Linked DNA regions of Homo sapiens: region 1 is linked to region 2. The links come from fine-mapping of genetic effects on gene expression. A gene starts in region 2. The other region holds a variant in brackets. All regions are shown on one strand. Distances are from middle to middle. Region 1 overlaps CES4A (carboxylesterase 4A). Region 2 holds the start of TRADD (TNFRSF1A associated via death domain).

Region 1 (2,500 bases), 150 kb after region 2:
TTCCAGCTCCCAGTACTGGGGCTGGGCCCAAAAGAGTGCAGTGGTGAATGACTGTGGAATGCTTGAGTGAATGAAGAGTGTGGGTCATGGATCAAGAAGGACACATTCTAGAGACGTTTAGGATCCGGTGACTGACTGAGGAAAGCTGAAGAAGAAGGGGCACCCTGTTTGGGCCGACTGGGCAGTTCCTGTAGGACATGCTGGGGCAAATATCCGAAGCAGCTGGCTTCTTCAGGTCCAGCACTGGGCAGGTAGAATGCCCAGATGTGCTGGGGGGCAGACTCACCCTGTGCGGGCAAAGTTGGCCCAGTATTTCATCATCTGGAGGCTAAGTGCCTTCTCCTTACCCATGGAAAGGCCTGGGGGCAGAATGGGATGTGGGATTTCGGACAGAGCAGGGGACACTGACCTCCCACCCTACTCCTGCTGCTTCTGCTGCTTCCGGAGCAGAAGACTTTCATTTGGGAGAGCATAACAGATTAGGAACTGGTGAGCTCCCTGTGGCCAGCCAATGGAGGGGTGGGTCTGCATCCAGAGGTGGGAGACTGGACACCCAGTTGGGGTATCAGGTGGGACCTTTGCACCTGTGGCGAAGGGGCCCCCAAAGAGGAAGTACATCTCATCCCCATGGTCTGCCCCATCAGTGCGGGGTTTGACGATTATTCCACGAGCGTGGTGCTCAAATTCATACAGGTAGACAGGGAGGCCGGCATCTGTGAATAGGGAAACTGAGGAGGGATGCAGGAAAAGCCTCTGCCTAGGCTTCTCATCCACCCCATGCCTCCCACTCACCTGCACCAAGCAGGAAAAAGAGCTTTGGCTTCAGAATCAAGGGGGCAGACTTGAATCCTGTCTGCACTACTCATTCACTGTGTGACCTAAAGCAAGTTGCTCTACCTTTCTGAATTGTATCAATAATTCCTTATCTTCAGACTGAGAATACTAAAACCTAATTCACAGGATTGTGGCCAGGATCATGGAAGCCTTCCTTTTCCCTGTTCTGAACCTTCCTTTCTTGGCCTCATATTGAAGGGTCTTTGGTGTCTGCATTTTCCAGCCCCCCCCCCTTTAACCTGTTACCCACATGTTCCCCTAGCCCCAGTCAGCCTGAACTTTCAAGGTGCCCCTAAGCCTGTCCTCTCAGCCAGGAAGCCTTCCCTGACCACCCCAGGCTTCTCCTCTGGACTGTTTGAGGTCCTGCCCTTGTTCCTAAGGAAGAACAGTTCCTCTCTTATACTTTTTTTGTTTTTTTTTTGAGATGGAGTCTCGCTCTGTTGCCCAGGCTGGAGTGCAGTGGTGTGATGTCGGCTCACTGCAACCTCCCCCTCCCAGGTTCAAGCGATTCTCCTGCGTCAGCCTACTGAGTAGCTGGGACTATAGGCATGCGCCACTACAGCTGGCTAATTTTTTTGTACTTTTAGTAGAGATGGGTTTTCACCATGTTGGTGAGGCTGGTCTAGAACTCCTGGCCTCAAATGATCCACCCACTTCGGCTTCCCAAAGTGCTGGGATTACAGG[T/C]GTGAGCCACCGTGCCTGGCCCCTTCCTCTCTTGTAGTTGATAGCATGCTGCCTCCTCTGTGATATCTTAGAATCCTATACTAGCCCAGAAGTACAGAGAGGGTAGGGGAGCAGTCGATAAGCCCAGTTGGTAAACAGCACACCTGGAGAGTGGACGGGGCCAGTGTGGCCACTCTTGGGGACCCTGCATACCTCGGTGGTAGTGAGCAGTCTGCAGTGTGGCATACACGAAAGTGGCATCTTGAACTATGTCCATCATACGGTTTCGTAGCATCTTCCAGTCATGCTCATTGACATTGTCCAGGTACTCCTCCACCACAAGTGGTACCTGCTCCTTGGTGATATTCTGAGTGAGGAGGCCACACTTACCTGAGGCCTGGGTGCCAGCTGGGCCAGAGGTGGGCCCACCAGTGACTTGGATCCATGCTCAGCCCCCCAGGAGTTTTTGGCCTGGGAGGGGGAGAAAGGGAGCTTCCTGGGAAAGTTTCTGTCTCTGCTGATTGTAACCCCTGATTTTGCTGCATAACTGCCCCTGTGACCCTGAGCACCTTACCTGTAAGCAGTCATCTGATCCCACAGCAAACCCCAGACCCTCCAAGAAAGATCCTTACCCTGGCTGGGAGCCCCTTTGCAAAGAGCAGCTACTAGGTTAAAAAAAACAGGGGGGTCAACCCTGTCCGAACTGAGCACCCCTGCCAGCTGGGTCCCTCACCAACAGGGTGCGGGTACTCCAGAGCATCTTAGTGATGGTTTCCTTTCTCATCGCCTGCCGGTTTAGCGGGAACTTCATGATCTGTTCACAAGACAAGGACCCCAGTGTGGGTCAGGCCTGAGCATTAGGAGGGATTCTGGCCAGAGCTACAAAGGCCCCAAAGGTCTTGCCCATCTAATGATGAGTTATCAGACACAGCACACAGCCCAGGAAGGGCCCATGACTCTCTCTTGTCCCCCTGCTCCCATCCTGCTCATCACTACCACCTGG
Region 2 (3,011 bases):
ACTCACTGCACCCTCAGTCTCCCGGGCTCAAGCAATCCTCCCACCTCAGCCTCCCGAGTAGCTGGGACTACAGGGGCACGCCACCACGCCTGGCTAATTTTTGTAATTTTGTTGCAGAGACGAGGTCTCGCTTTGTTGCCCAGACTGACCTCGAACTCCTAGGCTCAAGCGATCGGCCCGCCTGGGCCTCCCAAAGTGCTGGGATTACGGGCATGAGCCACCGCGCCCGGCCTGAGAAACCCCATCTTAACCCCGCCGGTTAGTAGAAAGTGACTACAGGGTTAATAAGGCGGGAGCGTTAATGTAGGCTTTTCTTTGTCAGGGACCATGAGCCAATCAGGAAGCGAGGCGTGGGCGGGGCAAAGCTGGATCCACCCCTGGAGGGGAGGCTCCTTCCCCGCCTCCGCCTCGCCGGGGAGATGTCCCGGGTGCTTCCTAAGACAGCCCCACTGGATGAAAAAAAACTTGGGTCTCTGGGACCTGACGGTTCTGGGGCCTGAGGGGCTCAAGATTTAAGTTCCGACCCCTGAGCAGCCCTGGCTCCCGCTGAGCAATTTGGGTTCGGCTGGAACTCCGCAGACCCACCCTGGAGCGCAGCCTTTAGAGGGGGATGGGTTACTGGAAAGTGTGCGTCCTCTTTGAAGTTGCCAATCCTGTTTGTTTTTGTTTTGTTTTGTTTTGAGACGGAATCTAGCTGTGTCGCCCAGGCTGGAGTGCAGTGGCGAGATCTCGGCTCACTGCAAACTCCGCCTCGCGGGTTCAAGCGATTCTTCTGCCTCAGCCTCCCGAGTAGCTGGGACTCCAGGCGCGCGCCACCTCGCCGGGCTAATTTTTGTATTTTTAGTAGAGACGGGGTTTCACCATATTGGCCAGGCTGGTCTCAAACTCCTGACCTCAGGTGATCCACCTGCCTCGGCCTTCCAAAGTGCTGGGATTACAGGCGTGAGCCACCGCGCCCGGCCGCCAATCTTGTTTTAAGGTTCTTAAAGGTTTGTGTACACAAGGCTTCACACTACTCGCCAGTTAATGTTCCCATATCTTCCGGGCTAACAGTTTCTCCCGGAATTTGTGCCACGTGTTTCCTGGGGCTTCAGATACGTTCGGCCGGGCTTGTACCTGGGACCCATGGGCACCCCGTTTTGAGTGCCCACTGGTAGCAGCGATCTTGAAGCCGGATCCCCAGGGGTACCAGAAAATTCTGGTCTCCAGGGGGCGCCCCCTTGATTTACCGAAGTCTGGCAGCTGTAGCTCTTACGAGCCCCCCGCCTCGTAAGAATCGCAAACCCCCAAAGTCGGGTCTTCCTGCCGTCTAACCTTGGGCGCTGGTGTCTTACCTGCTCGGCGGACCAGATGGGCTTTGCCCGGGGCAGGGGACTGGCAGCAGAGGACAGCGGACGGGAAGCAGCCACCGGGAGCCCGCGGGGCGGGACGCGCGGGCGGACGGGGCGGCTCGGGCTAGGGCACCGCCCCAGCGCCTCCGCGCACACCCGGAAGCGGCGGAGTAGAGCGGAGCCTGGCGGGCGTGGGAACCCAGGCCCCGCCGAGGCGGCCAGGTTAGTGCAGCAGGTGGGTGGGTGGGCTCCCCGGTGCGGGCGGGAGAGGAGGTGGATCTTGGCTCCGAAGCGTGGGCGCGGCGCAGATGTCACCGGCGGCTGCTCCAGCCAGCTGGTGGCGGCGGTCTACTGAGCTGTTCGAACACCGTGGGAGGCGGGGGACGGTACGGAATTTGGCCCCCGCAGGCTCCTCGTCCCTGCCAGCACTTTCGAGGTGCAGTAGGGCCCTGCAGGAGAGAGGGTGGGGGAGAAGGGGCTGGTTCTGAATACTTTCCTTGAGCGGAGACCCCCTTGCCCACCCCAGCCGATCGCACGTGCGAAACCCCAGCTTGAGGGTGGGCTAGTGGGAGCCTGGGAAGCTCCCCTCAAGCGCTCGGGAGCTGCGTAGCTGAGTAGGGGGTGTGCCCGGCGGGTCGCAAGGAGTCACAGGCTTTCAGTTCTGGGCCACGCCCACAGGCTGTCTCTGTCCACCCAGCCAGAGGTGGGGCTGCCCCCGGGACTGTTAGGTGTTCAGGGGGCACCGTGCGTGGCTCGTCCCTGGAAACAGGCGCAGAAGTTGTTAGGTCGGTACCTAAGCGCCCCACAGTCTCCGGCCACCAAACTTTCTCAGGACCCAGCCTGGAAGCCTCAGCCCCGCCCAAAAAGGGACGACTCCTGGTGGGTGGGGCGCGGGGCTTCCCAAGGAGGGGCTTCCGTGAAAGAACACGTAAGAAGAGCTGCCAGTCGGCGGATGCGAAACTAGGGCCCTGGCCTCTTTACCCTGTTAACTCGACCTCCAGCCTGGTTCACCTTCCCCATCTTCTAGTACTAGTGAGTGTGAGAAAGCATCCCCAGTCTCCAGGTTCCCAGTACTCCCCACCTCCCCCTCGACCCCCACAGACCTGATGGGCAGACAATGGTCCTGTTCGGTCCCCACTTCCACCCCTTGGGGTGGGACCATAACCAAGTCAAGCACTCTCAAGTCAAGGGGCCAGAAAGACATGAAAGAGGGAATGTTTCCAGGGGAAGTTCCCACTCTCTCCTACTCCCCAGGCCACTTTCGAAGGACTCCCCCCTTATCTCACCTCCGTGGCTGGCTCCCTATTATGGACCCACTTGTCACCTGCAGAGTTTCCTGTTTTTTCTTGTTTTGCTTTTAAAGAAAACAAATTTATTTTGCTCTTTTAATACAAAGAAAATATGTCTACTTCACATAAAGCAGAAAATATTGCTAAATACAAAGAAAATAAAAATCACCCACAATCCTTCCCCACCCCCACCTACCTTCCTTCATCCTGCCCAGAGATAAACAAAATGCAAACTTCCTGTTACTATCCAGACTGTGGTTTGGCGTAAGTACACAAGTATTAATGTTTTCTATGAAAAGATTAGAAGGCTGGGTGTGGTGCCTCACACCTGTAACCCAGCACTTTGGGAAGCTGAGGTGGGCAGATCGCTTGAGCCCAGGAGTTTGAGACC

The links. PIP is the estimated chance that this variant, and not a neighbour inherited with it, causes the effect.
Region 1: its variant is fine-mapped to the expression of TRADD in whole blood (TOPMed, PIP 0.99).

What each region holds. Positions count from the first base shown.
Region 1 is chr16:67,004,604-67,007,103 of GRCh38, reverse strand. CES4A (carboxylesterase 4A) reads right to left here. Exons shown (of 14, transcript NM_001364782.1): 10 at 2,231-2,311; 11 at 1,711-1,864; 12 at 585-713; 13 at 287-359. Among named protein-coding and RNA genes, the nearest start is that of CES4A, 17 kb to the right of the region's middle. The variant T/C (reference allele first, on the strand shown) is at 1,519.
Region 2 is chr16:67,158,380-67,161,390 of GRCh38, reverse strand. It overlaps TRADD (TNFRSF1A associated via death domain), which reads left to right and starts at 1,482. Exons shown (of 5, transcript NM_003789.4): 1 at 1,482-1,553. It overlaps FBXL8 (F-box and leucine rich repeat protein 8), which reads right to left and starts at 1,434. Exons shown (of 3, transcript NM_018378.3): 1 at 1,335-1,434. RefSeq lists silencers at 204-293, 1,314-1,453 and an enhancer at 2,054-2,313.